Regions from separate parts of the Homo sapiens genome. Here all the other regions are reported to be linked to region 1. Evidence: microRNA targets listed by miRTarBase, many of them from high-throughput screens and not tested one by one. Region 1 holds a microRNA gene; each other region holds the end of a gene's coding sequence.
Evidence for each region. Region 1 holds the annotated microRNA hsa-miR-3916 (AAGAGGAAGAAAUGGCUGGUUCUCAG, at 1,147-1,172, shown strand). A microRNA usually pairs through its seed, bases 2 to 8, with sites in the 3' UTR of a target mRNA and lowers its output. Matches are read on the target gene's strand: a 7mer-m8 pairs with bases 2 to 8, a 7mer-A1 pairs with bases 2 to 7 and ends in A, and an 8mer does both.

Region 1 (3,153 bases):
AATGCCATTTTTCAGGATGGCGATTGGTGGTCTTCACTTGCAATCAGAAGCATTGCTGGGTTTTTTTTGTTTGTTTGTGTTTTGAGACCAAGTTCCCTCTTGCTGCCCCGGCTAGAGTGCAATGGTGCGATCTCAGCTCACTGCAACCTCTGCCTCCCAGGTTCAAGCGATTCGCCTGCCTCTGCCTTCCCCAGTAGCTGGAATTACAGGCATGCGCCACCACACCCGGCTAATTTTGTATTTTTAGTAGAGACACGGTTTCTCCATGTTGGTCAGGCTGGTCTTGAACTCCTGACCTCAGGTGATCCACCCGCCTCGGCCTCCCAAAGTGCTGGGATTACAGGCGTGAGCCACTGCGCCCGGCCAAAGCATTTCTGTTGTGATACCGGTGTTGAGTACAAGGGACTCTGTGCTGTATTTGCCTTCTCTAGCTGAGTGCTGCTGATGAGGAGTCCGGGGGAACAGTATCAGAAGACTTGTTATAGAAGCCCATTTGCAGACCCCTTTCACACCTGCGGAAACACATTACTTAGAATGGGGCCTGGAATACCAAATTAGAATACCAAATTATTTATATGTACATTGAAGCCAGAGAGACAGTACTCAGGTATGTGGTTCTCAGCCCAGGCTTTCAATTAGAAACAAATAGCCAGTTTGGAGAACTACCATCACACATGCTGTCTCCAAAGATCCTGTCTGTGGTCTGGATGGAAGCATAATTGTTGTTTTAAGTAAGTGCCCCCCAGCGATTCTAAGGTGAGATCAGAGTCAACCTTGAGGGCTCCCAGATACAGTCACGAGACTTGGGTTCCAAAAGGAGGTCAGAGGGCCTGCTCTTCGGTTTGATAAGGGTAGGTCACCAAGATCCATATTTCCTTTGCTGTACCAGAAATTGCTGGAGTTCATGGCAGGGGAGATCACCTGAAGGCAGGAAATTTTTGGTCTTTATGTGGTAGCTCATTTTTCCTCTCCTGTGATAAAGAATAGGGGAGTATTCCCTTTTCTGCACTGCAGGGCCTTCTGCCTCTAGGTGTGCTGGTTGCAGGTGAAAGGGTTGTGTTGACACCTTTAAAGACATATTCTCAAATGCAGGTGTGATTTGTCCAGATAATCTCACCTGAGAAGGAATCCCAGAGAAGAAGGAAGAAGAGGAAGAAATGGCTGGTTCTCAGGTGAATGTGTCTGGGTTCAGGGGATGTGTCTCCTCTTTTCTTCTGGGATGTTATGTGTTTAGAACTTGCAAACCTTTATTTCTGTACTTCTGATGTACCTGCCTAATGTGTTTCTTCCCAACTACCTTCCCCCCTTCCCCCCTCCTTTCTTATGATTGATAAGGAACTCTGTAAAATCCTTCCTCCTGTGTACCAGAACCTTCTCTCCATTCCCTCCTTCCAGGCTTCTTATATGTCATGACCAAATCTTACCATTAATGTATGATGGGCAGTATTCAGATGTTCTGTGACATATCAACATGGGAAAGTGTGGATCCCCAGGATTATCCGTGGGGATGGGGCTGGGTCTTGGGATGTCAGTGAAGAAGGGGATCATGTACCGTTTAGATTTCATCCACATGCTCCATCATCTCTATGCAGAACAGAATTAAGAAAAGAGACATTTAAAGAGGATGGCATTCATTGCCTGGAATAACTTAAAGTTCTGAAAAGAGAATAATTAGAAGACATTTGCTGTCTAGGATGCTAAAGAAACACTATTGAAATACCCTATTGCAGATTAAAGAACCAGGGAAACAGCTATAGCTTGAACTTTGCATAAAACTGATGTTTCTGGCCAGGCACTGTGGCTCACACCTGTAATCCCAGCACTTTGGGAGGCTGAGGCGGGCAGATCACTTGAGGTCAGGAGTTCAAGACCAGCCTGGCTAACATGATGAAACCCCATCTCTACTAAAAATACAAAAATTAACTGGGCATGGTGGTGCACGCCTGTAATCCCAGCTATTTGGGAGGCTGAGGTGGGAGAATCACTGGAACCTGGGAAGCAGAGGCTGCAGTGAGCCAAGATTGCACCATTGCACTCCAGCCTGAGCGACAGAGCAAGACTGTCTCCAAAAAACAAAACAAAAAAAGGATGTTTCTACATGATTAGGTTCAGATTGTAATTTACTATTTTTGTGGTCAATAATATTAGAGCAGTGATACTTTGTCCTTGATGTCATGTGATCCTTGATGTCATTTTATCCTTGACATCTTTGATGTTGATTTATCCTATTATAGTTGATCTTAATTTTATTTACTTGGTTAAGGTGCTCTCTGCCAGATTTTTGCACGATAGAGATATTTTTTTCATTATTGTTTAGTACCTTGGGGAGATTTACTGACTGATACATATAAGCCATCACATTTAATTAGGAAGCTCTTCTTTCTTTTTAGATTCTCCTCGCTTATAGCTTGCTTTGGAAAATGAAGGCTCTCGTGTTTGTTTATTGGTTAGATAAACTGAAATAAACACAGGCTCTGCCACTTCCTGCATGTTTGAAAAAATATTTTCCTTGGCCCAGACACAGTGGCATCACTGTATGGCTCACTTAGAAATTCAGAGACTCAGGCTTCACCCTAGGTCCTCTGAATCACAACCTGCATTTTAAGAGGATCTCTAGTTTATTGTGTACGCATTAAAATTTCAGGGGTACCTTCTGATGAATCATGACCTCTACATATGAGAAATATTTACAGTTTATCCTGTGTGAGGTAAATAGAGCAGGAAAAAATGTATATGCCTGCGTTGATGCCCTTAATTTTATACTGTATTATTCACAAGAGTAGAATATGTACACTGGTTATGTGGAGCTTATGCCATCCTCTTTCTTCAGGATTAAAGAATATGTTAGAGAATATTTCTGTGTTTACAATTATTTGATCATTTCAGTCTCTTCTATAAGTAAGAACCAGTTCTCTCTGTCTCTCTTTGTGCCTGGAATCAGATTAAGAACTCTGCCCATGACCACTTGATACGTATGTGTTTTTTCTTTGCCAGGGACTGTTGATATTCAGGGATGTGGCCATAGAATTCTCTCCGGAGGAGTGGAGCTATCTGGACCCTGCTCAGCAGAATCTGTATAGGGACGTGATGTTAGAAAACTACAGAAACCTGGTCTCCCTGGGTGAGGATCGCTTCAATGCATAATTTCTATTT
Region 2 (3,153 bases), not on the chromosome of region 1:
TGTCATTTAGAGAAGACAGGACGATGCAAACTGTTTGTTGTGGCTGCTATTTTGACTTATTTCCTTTTAGGAATTTTTTTTCCTTGTTCAATACAGAAATACTGAAAATGATACCAAGTTTATAAAAACTAACTCGGCCTGGCAAGATGGCTCACACCTGTAATCCCAGCACTTTGGGAGTCTGAGGTGGGCAGATCACTTGAGGTCAGGAGTTTGTGAGCAGCCTACCCAACATGGTGAAACCCTGTCTCTACTAAAAGTACAAAAATTAGCCGGGAGTGATGGGGCACACCTTGTAATCCCAGCTACTTGGGAGGCCGAGGCAGGAGGATCACTTGAGCACGGGAGGTGGAGGTTGTAGTGAGCCAAGAGCATGTCACTACACTCCAGCCTGGGTGTTGGGAGTGAAACCCTGTCTCAAAAAAAACAAAAACCAAAAAACTAACTTCCCTCCTCCCATATTTATATTTGTCTTTGAAAGCCAGCTAAAGGGAAAAAAGGAAAAGGCCAGGGCAAGTCTCATGGGAAGAAACAGAAGAAACCAGAAGTGGACATTCTCAGCCCCGCGGCCATGCTGAACCTCTACTACATCGCCCACAACGTCGCTGACTGCCTGCATCTGCGAGGCTTCCATTGGCCGGGTGCTCCCAAAGGAAAGAAAGGGAGAAGCAAGTGACAGCATTTCACAACACATCTCTGTTACAGACAACAGGACCTGGGGAAGAGAAGTCAGGATAACACAACTGTTGCCAGCAACATAGACTTTACTCCAGACGACTTGAGATGCAAATTAAGTGTGCTTTTCTGTGATGGTGGAAGATCAGGAAATGCACCTTACTTCCTCTGTTATGCCAGATATGGTTAGCCACTTTGGTTTTTTAGGAGCTATAGGATGGGAAAAGCCTGAGTAATTCCTACACAGTGTGCTGAAATTAATAGAACTTTCAGAAATTATTATAATTCTGGGTCAGGATTAAACTTTGCTCTCAGAAGGCAGTTCTAGTTGCATTAATTGTTTTCTTTTGCCAAAGAGCGTTTGTCATTTAGAGAAGACACGGCAAGAAACACTGGGTTTCCTTAGGAACATTCCTCTCTTGGGCACCATTTCCTTTTTTTTTTTTAATGGAAAATAATAAATACTTTGTTTCTATAATTTTCTTCTCAGCAGTCTGACTCTGTTTGATTTGAATTAGCCACAGGCTCCACGGATGCTAAGATGGTCACGAATGCTCTGACCCTGCCAGTCTTGCAAGCAGATGGTGAGAAGTGGCTGACAGTGTGAAATGGCTGGATGCAGGGCAAAGGGGGCAAATCTGCCCATCCCTTTCTTTTTTCTTTTAAGACGGAGTCTCACTCTGTTGCCCAGGCTGGAGTGCAGTGGCGAAATCTCAGTTCACTGCAACCTCTGCCTCCCGGTTTCAAGCGATTCTCCTGCCTCAGGCTCCCAAGTAGCTGGGATTATAGGCGCACGCCACCAGCCCAGGCTAATTTTTTTATTTTTAGTAGAGATGGGGTTTCACCGTGTTGGCCAGGCTGGTCTTAAACTCCTGACCTCAGGTGATCTGCCCGCCTCGGTCTCCCAAAGTGATGGGATTATAGGCGTGAGCCACTGCACCCGCCTCAGTCTCCCAAAGTGCTGGGATTACAGGCATGAGCCACTGCACCTGCCTCAGCCTCCTAAAGTGTTTTATTACAGGTGAAAGCCATCGCACCTGGCCATCCCTCTTTTTTCCATATTTCACCTGACTCTTCTCCCTCCTTCCCTCCACACTCTATTTCGTCCCACCTTCTGCCTACTTTGTTAAAACTTGGCTGGCCCCGAGTTATAGAATTGGTGCCAGGCACTTACTTGCCCTGGGCATTCGGCTGATATTCTAGATCTCCCTAGCCCTGTAAGGAGACGCCTAAGAGGTGAAACTATAGTTCTTTCTCCTCGGCCCAGAGGCCTAAATTCTCCAGATGTGAAAGCCAGCGTTTTGCAAGTGCGGACGCCGTCTTTGACTCCCTGAGCACTCCATCCTTGCCTCCTGCTCTGTCTTCCTGGCTCTTCCTGCCCCTCCTCAGCCCCTGCACCGTTGTCTCCATTCATGGTTCTGAGCCCAAAGCTGACACACTGTAGGCAGCACCTCCGGGGATGTTCTAGTTTGTTGGAATTATAATTATGCTCCAGGTGGCCTTGTGAGGATCGCAAGGATTCATGAGGTTTGCTAAGGGAAGCTGCAACTCAGGACTCAGGATTTCATACACATCAGAGAAAAAAAGGAAGCTCCATGAATCTCTGTGCTAGAGAAGTGGGGTGCCCATGACCCACGTGAGCCTGTTGGGAACAATACTGTTTACCTGCACCATCTGTGCAGTTTCCATAGAAGCCCTTGGCCAGTTGCCAGAGGAGCCCTCACTTGGGTGAATCTGAAGGGAGGTCTCCTCTGCTGTGTTTTCTGGTTTTGGAGACGGGGAGCACCTTCCCACCCTGTTAAGGACTGCTGAACTCACTAACTCCAGTTCAGCAGTTCTCACACTTGAGTGTGCCTCTCGGTCACCTAGAACACTTGGCCAAGTGCAGATTGCTGGGCCCTACCCTCGCAGGAAGGATGGGGCTCAGGGATTTGCGTTTCTGGTACGCTGGCAGGTTATGCTGGTGCTGCCCAGCCACACAGGTAGAGAGCTGCCGCTCCAGTTAATGCTGCCTACCCAGAAGCTAAAAGGCTTAGTGGAATCCGAACCTGTGGGATGTGTAATGTCCTTTCCTGCCTCACCTGGGTTCAGGAGCGTGTATTTGAGTAGCTGGTTATTGGAAGTTTGGGGAGAAGGCAGCTGCAAAGCTTCCTTTTGATCCCTGACTGCCCGCACCTGCAAGGCTTCCATTGGCCGGGTGCTCCCAAGGGAAAGGGAGAAGCAAGTGACAGCATTTCACAACACGTCTCTGTTACAGAGAACAGGGCTTGGGGAAGAAAAGTCAGGATAACACAGCTATTGCCAGCAGCACAGACTTTACTCCAGACGACTTGAAATGCTGCTCATCTGTAGCACAGATACAGGCATTTACAGGCTAACAAGGTCTGAAAGTGGTCATGCTCTTTTCTTTTGAGATGATGAAATGATGAGCCAGGACTGTGAGTGCTGGGATGGGGGAAGCACTGGTCTGATTGGCCG
Region 3 (3,153 bases), not on the chromosome of region 1:
CTGCTTGGGGCCCCTGCGTGAAGGGGTTGACTTTATTTGGAGTAGAACATGGAAAAATCTGGCCTAAGGGCAATGCTGAAAATAGAGGTCACAGTGAAGAGTAATCAGGGAAAGCTGACAGCTCAAGGATACTAACAGAAGCATGCAAGTTAATATATTTAATTTAGAAATCTACCAGAAATTTAAAAATGACATCTAGGGATGGCTGAAGGGCACCCTACCCTTGTGCATATGCACAGTCATCGAGACCACCCACTCATCTCTGGCGATCTGGAAGACTGAATACATGCATAAGGGTGGGCTTGCTCAGAAAAGACCAGAAAGGTTACTGTCTCTGGCTGAATGCACAGTAGACTTGTAAACTCCCTGAACTTAGAGAGCAATCCCCAAGCCACATGAGATCCAACAGACAAAGGTTGAGAATTGAATATACAAATGGATAATGGCCAAACTAAAAGTAAAAGTAGACTTCTGACCTACAACCTGCAGTAACCAGCCCAGAAAGCCAACCTACTATTACAGTAACCAGTCCAGGAAGTCAAGCTGCTATCTGTAGCAAACAGTAGAGGAAGACAAACAATAATACCCCTGTACCGATTGGCTCCAAATGGCCAGCACTTACTAAATATAATAACTCACAATTCCTTAATTTTTGTTCTTGCTTTCAACTAAGGACCAATGAGGGAAAGCCATACATGTACTCCCAACCAATCACATATGATGCCCCTCTTCTAGTTAGCCTGCCCACAGCTTCCCCATGCCACAGCTTCCAGTTAAGGCATACCTAGAACCTTCTCTTTTTTCCACTATAGCGCTTTCCCACTCCTCTGCCTGTTGTGAGTCTCTGCCAAACACAAGTGATGATGGTGGATTCTCTTGGTATAGCAAGTGCTGAATAAATAGCCTTCACTTGTTATCATGTTGGTGGTGGTATGGGTTGAACTGTGTCCCATCTTCTCCCCAAAAAAGATATATTGAACTCCTTATCCCCAGTACCTCAATCTGTGATCATATTTGGAATCAGGGTATTCACAGAGGTAACCAACTTAAAATCAGATCAACAGGCTGGGCCTAGCCCAAGATAACTGGTATCCTCATAAAAGGGGAAATTTGGACACATGGATAGGCACATGCAGAAGGAAGGTGATGTGAAGGCACACAGGGAAAATGGCCATGTGACTGGAGTAATGCATCTACAGGCCAAGGAACACAGGAATGCTGGCAAACACCAGAAGCCAGAAGAAGCACAGAAGCATTTTCTATTTGTCTTTCTAATCTCCTTCTGTTTCTCTGAATATCTTCATTTCTATCTCTGTGTTTTTGTCTGTTTCTCTATTTATCTTTCTGTCCTTCAATCTGTGTTTTCGTTTCTGGCTCTCCGTCAGTGTCTTTGTCTCTCCTCTCTCTCTTGCTCTGCCCTGGCTATTTCCACTGCTCTATTTTTGACTCTCATTTTTGGTCAAGGAAGGATTAGAAGGCAAGGAAGGATTCTCCCCTAGAGCTGTGAGAAAGAGAATGGCTCTGCTGACACCTTGATTTCAAACTTCTAGACACAAAAACATATAATATATACTGCAAGTTTCCATTTATATAAAGATCAAGAACAGGCAGAACTAAAGTGTAGTGGAGATTGACTTTGGTATGACAGCATGAGGAGGTTGCCTCTTACCCACAAGGAAATATGAAACTGGATAAAACTCTAAAACTACCATCTCTGTGCATACAAAGACATACAAAAAGCTGAGAAGTATTTATTGCTGAAAATAATTGATCTTTAGGAAAGAACAGTGCAAATCTATGGCAGGTTCCTGTCACAGCTAACATAGCCTAAGCAGGCACCCTTGGGATTAGCCCTATCCTCCCAGGCCCTGGAAGAAGGAATCTCCACCAGAATCATGAATCCCTAGAGTTGGAAGCTGGAAGTACCAGGGAGTGATATTTGATTGTGGGAAAAGATGGTGAGTGAAGGGTGTGGAAGGAAGACTAAATAAGAGAGATAGAGAAGGAAAAGATTAAGTGACAGGAAGAGAAATAGAGACACAGAAGAAGAGCATCAGAGACAGAAATAGAGCCTCAGGGAGACAGAGAGATTGAGGACACAGCAGAGGAGAGACAGAAATAGAGCCTCAGGGAGACAGAGAGATTGAGGACACAGCAGAGGAGAGACAGAAATAGAGACAGAGACAGAGTGAGAAAGAAAGTGACTAGGAGACACACAGAGACCAAAAATGAGAGTCAGAAATAGAGCAGTGGAAATAGCCATGGCAGAGCAAGAGAGAGAGGAGAGAAAAAGACACTGACGGAGAGCCAGAAACAAAAACACAGATTGAAGGACAGAAAGATAAACAGAGAAATAGACAGAAACACAGAGATAGAAATGAAGATATTCAGAGAAACAGAAGGAGATTAGAAAGACAAATAGTGACAGGGGAAAGAGAGAGGAAGAGACTGAGGGAAAGGGGTACAGTGAGAGAAACTGAGAAGCAAGGACAGGTTCAGGATCTAAAGTCCAGAAAAAGAAACTTACAGCAAAGCCCCTAACCCAGGAGCTGGAGTGGCAGAATTTGAACCAGAATCTGATCAGCAGGGCGAGGGCACCAGCATAAGTCACATTTGTTTGACATTTAACATTCAAAATACCAATATTTACAATGAGAATAATCATCCACTTATATTTCCATAACTCTCTGCAATAAAGCACTTTAAGTTGGGAATAAGGATGTTTGCAGACACATGCCAATTACGTGCGGAACAGGTGCTGAATTCCAATTCCTGGGAGTTTCTTCTTTCAAAACAAGCTGCTTTCTTTTGTTCAGTGAACAAGTATGTCCAGGACTGAGGTGACCATGCAGGGAGTGGAAAGGGTATGAGATTCAGACTTCACCCTTAATCTGGCTCTCCTTTGCCAGCTTGAGCCAGGTCTGTAGCTGCTGGAAGATGTTCTGTGGGGAGGTGGGAAGAATTTGAAAGTCAGATTTCAGCACCAGCAGAAGGAGGGAACATGCAAGTGATTATTCAAATGAGAATGCAAATGATTCAGAGCCTTTTTTCTCTTACCTGGCGCCCTAGGCGGAGGCTGGGGGAGTCTGAGGGCCTCTCAGGTGCCATGTCCAAGCAGTGGGAGCCAGTGCGGATAAGAAGAGTTGATTCTGA
Region 4 (3,000 bases), not on the chromosome of region 1:
CAAGCACTTGTGGGTCTGTGGCTCTGCTGGGACAAAAGCCTTCCTCCCTGGGCTGGGGAAGGGAGGACCAGGGCCATGCCTGCTTTCCTCCTGCACAGATGGCACCCTCTGGCGGTCCCCCCCAGCAGCAGCCCCCCGTGGCCCAGCAACCGCAGGCACAGGGGCCGCCGGCACAGGGCAGCGAGGCCCAGCTCATTTCATTCGACTGACCCAGGCCATGCTCACGTCCGGAGTAACACTACATACAGTTCACCTGAAACGCCTCGTCTCTAACTGCCGTCGTCCTGCCTCCCTGTCCTCTACTGCCGGTAGTGTCCCTTCTCTGCGAGTGAGGGGGGGCCTTCACCCCAAGCCCACCTCCCTTGTCCTCAGCCTACTGCAGTCCCTGAGTTAGTCTCTGCTTTCTTTCCCCAGGGCTGGGCCATGGGGAGGGAAGGACTTTCTCCCAGGGGAAGCCCCCAGCCCTGTGGGTCATGGTCTGTGAGAGGTGGCAGGAATGGGGACCCTCACCCCCCAAGCAGCCTGTGCCCTCTGGCCGCACTGTGAGCTGGCTGTGGTGTCTGGGTGTGGCCTGGGGCTCCCTCTGCAGGGGCCTCTCTCGGCAGCCACAGCCAAGGGTGGAGGCTTCAGGTCTCCAGCTTCTCTGCTTCTCAGCTGCCATCTCCAGTGCCCCAGAATGGTACAGCGATAATAAAATGTATTTCAGAAAGCATCAGCGTTTTTTCTTTAATTAATTTTTTTGAGATGGAGTCTCACTCTGTCACCCAGGCTGGAGTGGTGATCTCCGCTCACTGCAAGCTCCGCCTCCTGGGTTCAAGCGATTCTCGGGCCTCAGCCTCCCGAGTAGCTGGACTACAGGTGCACCCCATTACCATGCCTGGCTAGTTTTTGTATTTTTAGTAGCGACGGTGTTTCACCATGTTGGCCAGGCTGGTCGTGAACGCCTAACCTCAGGTGATCCACCTGCCTCGGGCTCCTAAAGTGCTGGGATTACAGGCATGAGCCACCGCGCCCGACCTGCATCAACGTTTGCTCAGGGGGCAGGTGGTCAGGCTGATGGCCCAGCTGCAGGCAGGGTCATTTCCAGCCTGCCCCTCCCTGAGGCTGCGTGCCAGGGTTCATGTGTGCCCTCCGCGGCTCTGCACTGACCCCGCCGGTAGCTGGGGAGGAGTTTGGGCTTGGCGCCTCCTTCGTGTAGTGGCTGAAGCTTCCCGGGTGCTCCTCATTCCTGGGAAGGGAGTCGGGTGATGGGAACGGTGGGAGCTCAGCGCTCCGAGTCTGCGGCCGGGGGCCAGCGGGGCTGAAACGCGCCTCCTGAGTGTTGAAAGCGGCAGGCGCCGGCCTTTGCACCCAGAGGCCAGGGCGTCTCACTCACCTTCACATCCAGGCCTCTTAGGGGAGCGCGGCTTTGGCTTTTCCAGGAAGGAATGGACTCCAACGGACAGGGAAAGAAGAAGTGTGGAGAGACGGGCAGGATAAGCAGGCACTGGGCCCAAGCCGCCCTTGGAGGCTCTGCCTGTTCTGATCTGAAGGCGGAGGCTCAGCCGTGCTCTCCCAGGAAGCCACCTGGGCGTTTGGGGCTTTAGCTAGGAAAGAGGATGTCGCCTGCGGCTGCGAAGGCGCCAAAGCCCAGACCTCGCGCCTCCGCCCGCGACGGCGGCACTGGGGGCCCGGAGCGGGCGGGAGACGTGGATTACTGCGGGCTTCGGGGCCCTAGCCTCGACCGCGACGTTCGCTCGCATCGCGTACGGACAGAAACCCGTGAGCGCTGAAGAAAGAACACCTGAATCCGGAGCCCCAGCCCCCGTCGCTCGTTTGCGCGACCCCAAAACCTGGCGGGACGAGGGTCGCCCGATGTCTAGCTGCCGCCACAGACGACGCTTTTGCGTCTGCGCAGCGCGCCGCCTTGTGGGTAATCTCAGGGTGAGACGAGGCTAGCGCGAGGTACGGCTAGAGCGTCATTTCCGGCTCGAATGCCCGGCAGCCGTGGCGGCTAGAGCGTTCCTCCCCAGCTCGAATGCCCGGCGGCCGAGGCGGCTAGAGCGTCGCCTCCTCCCGGGGAACCGCGTGTGACCTTCCAGCCCGCGGACCGATGCTGCCGGCGGCCGCTCGCCCCCTGTGGGGGCCTTGCCTTGGGCTTCGGGCCGCTGCGTTCCGCCTTGCCAGGTACGCGGGATCCTGGGGCGGTCCGGGCCGGCAGGCGGGTTAGGGGGCAGCCGGGCACTGAGGGGTCGATCCGGGCGAGGAGGGCGGCGGGGCCGGCCTCCCTGCAGCGGCCAGGCCGGGCTTGGGGGTCCCATCGGGGGCGCGGGGAGGAGGCCTCCCGGTGCGCACGCCCCTTCCCTCCTGGGCCGTGGAAAGCGCCGGGGTCGGCCCCAGATGACCTTGGACGATTCCCTGCTCCTCCCTTGGCCTCAGCCTTTTCCGCAGCAAAGGCCCATCCGTGGGTGCGGCGTTTTGCGGCCAGGGGCCCCCATGTTTTGGGAGGCTTTGCGCAGGAAGATGCACCTAAGTAATAGTTTCGCCACCGCTGGGTTGATGTAGTTCATTCAAACCAGAAACTTGAGGTTTGAGTGGTATGGCTGCAAATAAACACGTGGCTTTCTAAGGCTCTTTGAAGAATTTAAAGTAACTTGCAAATCTTATCAATACGGACCCCTTGAGGTCTGAGAACCCTGGACTGGGACCAAGGAGCTAGGTAATTTCCGGCCCTAGTGATTACCAGCCTGAGCTTATGGCACCCACCAGTCCCCCAGTTGTCCTGCCCCTCTGGTTTCTGCAGCCCCTTCCATTCCAGGACTGACAAGTCTGTTTTAATTGGGGGTGGGGGCTAGGCGACAGGTGCCATGTGTCTGTGCCGTGCGACATATGAGGAGCAGCGGCCATCAGAGGTGTGAGGCCCTCGCTGGTGCACCCCTGGATAACGCCCCCAAGGAGTACCCCCCCAAGATACAGCAGCTGGTCCAGGACATCGCCAGCCTCACTCTCTTGGAAATCTCA
Region 5 (3,153 bases), not on the chromosome of region 1:
CATTCAGCAAGTAGGTGCCTACTGTTGTTTGGCACAGTAGGGGATTAAAATGTTGAAAAAAAATACCCTTATGTTTTTTCACAGACATTTATTATGTTAAATGTCTTTCTCCTTAGGTTTACTCCTGATGGGAAGTACTTGATTGTGGCCCAGCTGAATCTTAGCAGGCTCTCAGTCGTAGCAGCACCCCCAGTGGGAAGCATTGGGGAGTGTTCTGTGATCAGCACAATCCAACTAGCAGATCAAGTTTTGCCACATCTCCTAGAAGTCGACAGAAAGACTGGAGCAGTCTATGTAGCAGAAATTGGAGCAAAACAAGTACAAAAATATGTCCCTTTGAATAGCTATGTTCCTTCATTTGGTTCATAATGTTTCTTTCCTGGGAATATTTCAAGTGGCAGTTCAGATTCTCAATTCACTAAGTGCTTAAAAATGATGTTCAAGCACAAGAATTTATTTTTCTAGTATAAAAGATCTAGTATCAGAAAGATTTGTTTTTGTATCATTAAGAATCTTATATTTTGTTGCCCTCTTGGGACTTAGTTTTATTTGTAAGTGCATAAGGATATTTTAATGAAAGGAAAGTAACTAAAAAATGGGGTTGGGAAGAGGGACTAAGGTGGTAACCTCATTATTTGCCCTGGTAGACTGATTCTCCCTGGGTAAAAAAAATGGGAATAAAAATGAGCTTGCATGATAATTTATTAAATTTCATGTGAAGAACTCCAGACCTCCAGATTGTGCAACTAACATAAAATGAGCTGCTTGAGAGATTGTAAATAAGATGAACTATTGATTAATTTGAGTACCCACAGAGTGCTGTGTCTTGACGACTTAAAAATGAAAAAGCAGGATTGCCTTTTGAGTAGCTTGCAGTCTAGTGGGGAGACAAGCAGGCAAACAGTCACAACACAGCAAAAGCGACCTTGGAGCATAGTGGGACTTTTGGAGTAGGAGTGCTGCATTTGACTGAGGGAATCATGGATACTTCGCAGGAGAAGTGAATTTGAGCTCAGACTTGAAAACTGAGGAGGAGCTTACCAAGGGACAAGGAGGAGAAAACAATAATTTCCAAGTAAAGAAGGTATAAAAAGTTAGAAGTGTACTGTAAACTTTGATAGGCTTTTAGGCCTTTTTTAAAGCCCAACTTGGCTTCTGTCCATTACCTATAAGATATTTAATGTCAGTCAGCCTTTAAATGTAGGAATAAAATGGCTGGCATCTAAGCACTTTAGTAAAAGAGGTTTTTACAAATAACTAAGGATTGTAGAGCTTCCTTCTCTTTTTTTTTCTTTTTCTTTCTTTTGTTTTACATGAACTCAACTTATTCCTAACATTTGTCTACCTCAAAGAAATTTCAAGATTATTTAGATAACATGGATATGTGCCAAATCCTTTGAGCTGTTAAGATGATAATTTCCTGCTTTCCTCCTACATCTTCTCCTCCCACTCCCTCCTTTGGTGTGAATATTGGCTTCCCAATTAAGACCTTTTTTTTTTTTTTTCCAGTTTGTTTTAGCTTATTATAGGTTTTGGAGGAACTTTGCCATTTTGTAATCTTTCAAATCATTCTTCACCCTTCCTCACATCAGCTTCCTGCTTTTCCCAGTGTTTTACTGTAAATTGTGTAGCATATGACAAATCTTGAGCTGACTTTCCTCTTCACCTGTTATGGCTGGAGTATTTTCCAGACCTGAAGGGACTCACACTTGTTTTGATACTTGGATCACATCTCCGTGAGGTTAGGAAGGTAAATCTACCAACAGGAAGCCCTGTACTCTGTATTCCAAGGCCATTGGTAAATGTGTTGGTGCCACTGATCGGACTGTATGACCTTAAACAAGTCACCTTAGTTTTCAGTGAAATGGGAATATCATTGTCTCCTCTTTCATGAATGCTGTGAGAATCAGATGTGCAACAGGTACAGACTTGCCCTTTGAAATCTATACCTCTGGATACATTAGAGGCATTTTATTAACAAAGGCCCTTCTAAATGTGCTATTTATTTGACAATAACTATCAGATTTGCCTTAATTTTGTGTTTATAGCATTTATCAAAACGTATCCTCATAGACTTTATGCAGATTAATATGGTCAATTGATTTGGATAAAAGAAAGTAATTTCAGGGTTTGTTTTTAAGCCAGGACAAGAAGTGCAAATGCCTCTTTGAAGCAATTTAGGCTAAACTGATTTTGAAATTTCAAAATGTTTTATTTTACTTTGTTTTATTAAGCCAGGACAAGAAGTGCAAATGCCTCTTTGAAGCAATTCAGGCTAGGTAAACCGATTTTGCCATTTCAAAACGTTTTATTTTACTTTGTTTTATATCAGAGTCTTATAAAACCTGCTGCAAATATTTCTGAATGTCTTTGTAAAAGTGTTTGTTAGTGTACCTGTGATTATAGTACTTCACTTTTTTCCTTTGGATTAATTGGTTAAATGAATGAGAAATGTGTTATGTTTTTTACTAAAAAGTATAAATTAAAATTTTGGAAAGAAAAGGCAATATTATCTGGCTCCCCAATTAAAGTTTGATTTTATTGTCACAAAAGCAGTCTATAACTTTTTATTCCTTTAAAGAATTTCAGCAATTATGAAATCACAAGTTGATGCTGAAAGAATATCCCACTTTTCACACATATAGCGTGTAAGCTGATGTGCATAAATATGACTAGAAGTTGCTTAGAACATTTAAAGAATGTAGCTTGTTTTGAGGTGGTGGGAGGGTACAACTGACAGTAATAACTAGCTAATTGTCTACATTTCTGCATTAAAAGTGGAACATCTTTATACTTCTACTTTTTAGGTCTATTCTTGGAGTGGGGAGGGGAGAAAGTGTTCTAAATTAGAAAACCAAAGGCTATAGATTTAGCTCTATCTTTCCCTACCTGTACCATCAGATTGGGTCTTTCAAGTGGAATATTTATCGATCAGAGAAAACTTGGATGAAATCTGATGGTGAACAGAGATTTACCACGAATTTTTTTTTTTTTTTTTTTTTTTGAGACAGAGTCTCGCTTGGTCGCCCAGGCTGGAGCGCAGGAGTCTCGCTCGCTCGGTCGACCAGGCTGGAGTGCAGTGGCGCCATCTCGGCTCACTGCAAGCCCCGCCTCCCGGGTTCATGCCATTCTCCTGCCTCAGCCTCCCGAGTA
Region 6 (3,000 bases), not on the chromosome of region 1:
AGCAGCATGCTGGGGGCCGTGGCCGGCCTTGCCCTGGGGCCAATCCTACGGCTGTACAAGCACAACTCGCAGGCACTGCTGCTGCATTCCAGCATACTCACCTGCACACTGCTGCTGCTCTACTCCTTGGCCCCCACCATGGGTGCAGTTGTCCTCTCCTCCACTCTCCTGTCCTTCTCCACTGCCATTGGCAGGACGTGCATCACGGACCTCCAGCTGACTGTGGGCGGGGCCCAGGCCAGCGGCACCCTTATTGGCGTGGGGCAGTCTGTGACTGCAGTGGGCCGCATCATCGCCCCTCTCCTCTCGGGGGTTGCCCAGGAGGTCAGCCCTTGCGGCCCCCCCAGCCTGGGCGCTGTGTTAGCCTTAGTGGCCATTTTCATAATGTCTCTAAACAAGCGACACTCTAGTGGTGATGGGAATAGTAAATTAAAAAGTGAGTAGATGGATTTGGACAACATAAAGCAACAAAATTTGAGATGGTTGAATGAGGGCCGGAGGCCATGATGAAAAGGGCACTTTGGAAAGGGTTGGGGTGGAAGGGAAATATTTCCGGGTGGGTGTGAGCTGTTGGGCTTCCAGGTCAGCTCTTGGCCATGCAGCCATGCCTGCAGGATGATCAGAAGTCACGGCACCTCATGGGAAGGTTAAGACTGGAGCAAAGCTTTTCCAAGGTGAGCATATTCAGCGTTTACCTGGAAGTCTCTTCTTCCCACCTGGGCTAATCAGGTTACAATTTTCAAGGGTAAACAAACTACCAGCTACAGGATAGGGAAGTGGTGGTGGAATAAGAGAACATGATACCTGGAGGAAGGGAAGAAACCACAAGCATTTTCCTACTGAAAAATAGGGTGACATGTCAGTCAAATTCTGATCAACTGGAACTTGAGTTTCCAGTTAAATTCCATACACTAGGAGGGAGTTTTCTATCAAAATCCTGCAGATTGAAGAAGCTGGTTTATTAGAACCAGCCTGTCGCTTTTCAAAGCTGCTTAAAAATAAGATACTGACCTCACCCCTAGAGATGATTCAGTGGGCCTGGGTGGGGCCAAGAAATCCGTGGTGTTTTGTAAGCACTGCTGGCGATTTCTCATGGCAGTAAAGACCACACTGAGACTGCACTGATTTTGATTAAAGTACATAGGCTTGGCTGTTTTTACACAGCTAACTAAATTTGGACTCTTAAAATTGTGTTTGTAATCACAGTGTGTTACACCTTTCCCAGCTCTCAGCAGTTGTACTGCATGATGGAGCAGCGGGCCCCTGGGACCTGTTCCCTGTGCTCCCTGCCTCTGAGAGCCCAGCTTGCTCTGAAGTTGGACTAAACCACTTAGATGCTGGGGTTGCCACAGCCTGCTCCTGGAAGCCTGCATTCCAGTCAGGTTGCATCCTTCTGGTGCTGACAGAACCCAGTGGTGAAGCCAAAGCACAGGAATGCTTTAAAAATGAACAGTTTATGCAGAATAAGGGTCAGGAGTCATGCCAGACCAGAACTTGATGCTACTGTGTCTTGTGTTAAGAATCATTTCCTGGCCAGGCTCGGTGGCTCAGGCCTGTAATCCCAGCACTTTGGGAGGCTGAGGCAGGTGAATCACTTGGTCAGGAGATGGAGACCATTCTGGCTAACATGGTGAAACCCCGTCTCTACTAAAAATACAAAAAAAAAATTAGCCGGGCGTGATGGCGGGCGCCTGCAGTCCCAGCTATTCGGGAGGCTGAGGTAGAATGGCGTGAACCTGGGAGGCGGAGCTTGCGGTGAGCCAAGATTGTGCCACTGCTCTCCAGCCTGGGCGACAGAGTGAGACTCCGTCTCAAAAAAAAAAGAATCATTTCCTTTATTTTTAGTTTCACGCCTGCAAACACAAGCATTCTGTTGATCAACGGAAATATTTTGATGTGCCATTTCTTGTCTAAACAAGTTTCATATACAGCACCGAGGGGGCCACGAGAGGCAGAGGCCCAGACAGAAGGTGAACATAGCCTTGCAGGGAGACATATGCCAGGCAGGATGACCATTGGGATTGCATCAAGTATTAATCAGTTACTTAAGGGCTTCCTGTCAGACAGTTGAAGTTCACATTCCTTTTACTTTTCTTAATTAGTCCACTAGGATGGTATGCCTGTTTTCAACTTAACACATGCATACTTGTAAATATTTTAGTATGCTACAGTAATTTGTCATATCTTTAATATTTATTGTTTGTAAAGCAGTAAACATTTCTGTATTTTAGAAGTCATGGAGTAAAATCAAATATTTATGATAAATAATTGGAAGTATGTTTTAGTTTGAAGATTGTCCTTTTTCCTATCTTGCTGCAAGGAAAAATGGACTTCTGATTAGGTTTTACAATTGTGAACTTTTATGTAAATGTTAAGTGCTTTCGAGGAGACCAAACTATTATTAATATATAAAATGGCCTTGCCCTTAAGGAGCAAATTAAATCTCATGGAGATTAGACTCAAAAGGCAATAAATAATCGAGGGTTTATGCAATGAAATAGAATTTCAGAAGAGTTTGGATCTCAAAGATTGTCCTTCACTCTCAGAAACAGGCAAGTTTCTTAAAAGCCCTTATAGTCGTGTTTTTATTTTAAAAATCGTAGCACTTTATTTTTGAAGTTTAAAAAGCCCATAAACTTAATGAGTCTTTATAATCAGACACATGGAAATATAGAAAACCAAAGACTGATCTTAGAATATAGAGTAGAGAGACATGTTTGTTATTCTCCACTAGTGACTTTAGTATTTTGTTATGTGATGTTTTTTAGGTGCACCTTTTCTCATGACTCCTTTTACTTTATCTAATGTCTTCCTCTTTAAAGTGTGACCCAGAGACCAGTAGCATCAGCATCACCTGAGACCTGTGAACACTGAAGCTCCAGCTCAGACATGTTGGGGACCATTTTAATAAGATACCTAGCTGATTTTTTGCACAGCAAACTTTGAAAACCCCTGGTCTAAGGGGTAGTATTTGTATCACTTATGGAATATAATCTCAGG

Region 2: the mRNA of SMKR1 is a reported target of hsa-miR-3916. Seed matches in the 3' UTR shown: 7mer-m8 at 839-845 and 7mer-m8 at 1,087-1,093.
Region 3: miRTarBase lists PRSS16 as a target of hsa-miR-3916. Seed matches in the 3' UTR shown: 7mer-m8 at 2,438-2,444.
Region 4: the mRNA of HGS is a reported target of hsa-miR-3916. Seed matches in the 3' UTR shown: 7mer-A1 at 296-302.
Region 5: the mRNA of NHLRC3 is a reported target of hsa-miR-3916. Seed matches in the 3' UTR shown: 7mer-m8 at 1,656-1,662.
Region 6: miRTarBase lists SLC67A2 as a target of hsa-miR-3916. Seed matches in the 3' UTR shown: 7mer-m8 at 2,810-2,816.

The regions. Positions count from the first base shown.
Region 1 is chr1:247,200,035-247,203,187 of GRCh38, reverse strand. It overlaps MIR3916 (microRNA 3916), which reads left to right and starts at 1,128; the gene lies at 1,128-1,221.
Region 2 is chr7:129,511,766-129,514,918 of GRCh38, forward strand. It overlaps SMKR1 (small lysine rich protein 1), which reads left to right. Exons shown (of 2, transcript NM_001195243.2): 2 at 482-1,153. The coding sequence ends at 676. Among named protein-coding and RNA genes, the nearest start is that of SMKR1, 11 kb to the left of the region's middle.
Region 3 is chr6:27,255,036-27,258,188 of GRCh38, reverse strand. PRSS16 (serine protease 16) reads right to left here. Exons shown (of 12, transcript NM_005865.4): 11 at 3,058-3,153; 12 at 1,569-2,942. The coding sequence ends at 2,874. Among named protein-coding and RNA genes, the nearest start is that of PRSS16, 8.9 kb to the right of the region's middle.
Region 4 is chr17:81,701,410-81,704,409 of GRCh38, forward strand. HGS (hepatocyte growth factor-regulated tyrosine kinase substrate) reads left to right here. Exons shown (of 22, transcript NM_004712.5): 22 at 99-712. The coding sequence ends at 209. MRPL12 (mitochondrial ribosomal protein L12) reads left to right here and starts at 1,958. Exons shown (of 5, transcript NM_002949.4): 1 at 1,958-2,166; 2 at 2,835-3,000. The coding sequence starts at 2,093. RefSeq lists enhancers at 1-233, 838-1,441, 1,386-1,455, 1,442-2,045 and a silencer at 1,946-2,325.
Region 5 is chr13:39,047,558-39,050,710 of GRCh38, forward strand. It overlaps NHLRC3 (NHL repeat containing 3), which reads left to right. Exons shown (of 7, transcript NM_001012754.4): 7 at 117-2,552. The coding sequence ends at 369. Among named protein-coding and RNA genes, the nearest start is that of NHLRC3, 11 kb to the left of the region's middle.
Region 6 is chr2:102,715,864-102,718,863 of GRCh38, reverse strand. SLC67A2 (solute carrier family 67 member 2) reads left to right here. Exons shown (of 6, transcript NM_032718.5): 6 at 1-3,000. The coding sequence ends at 444. Among named protein-coding and RNA genes, the nearest start is that of SLC67A2, 20 kb to the left of the region's middle.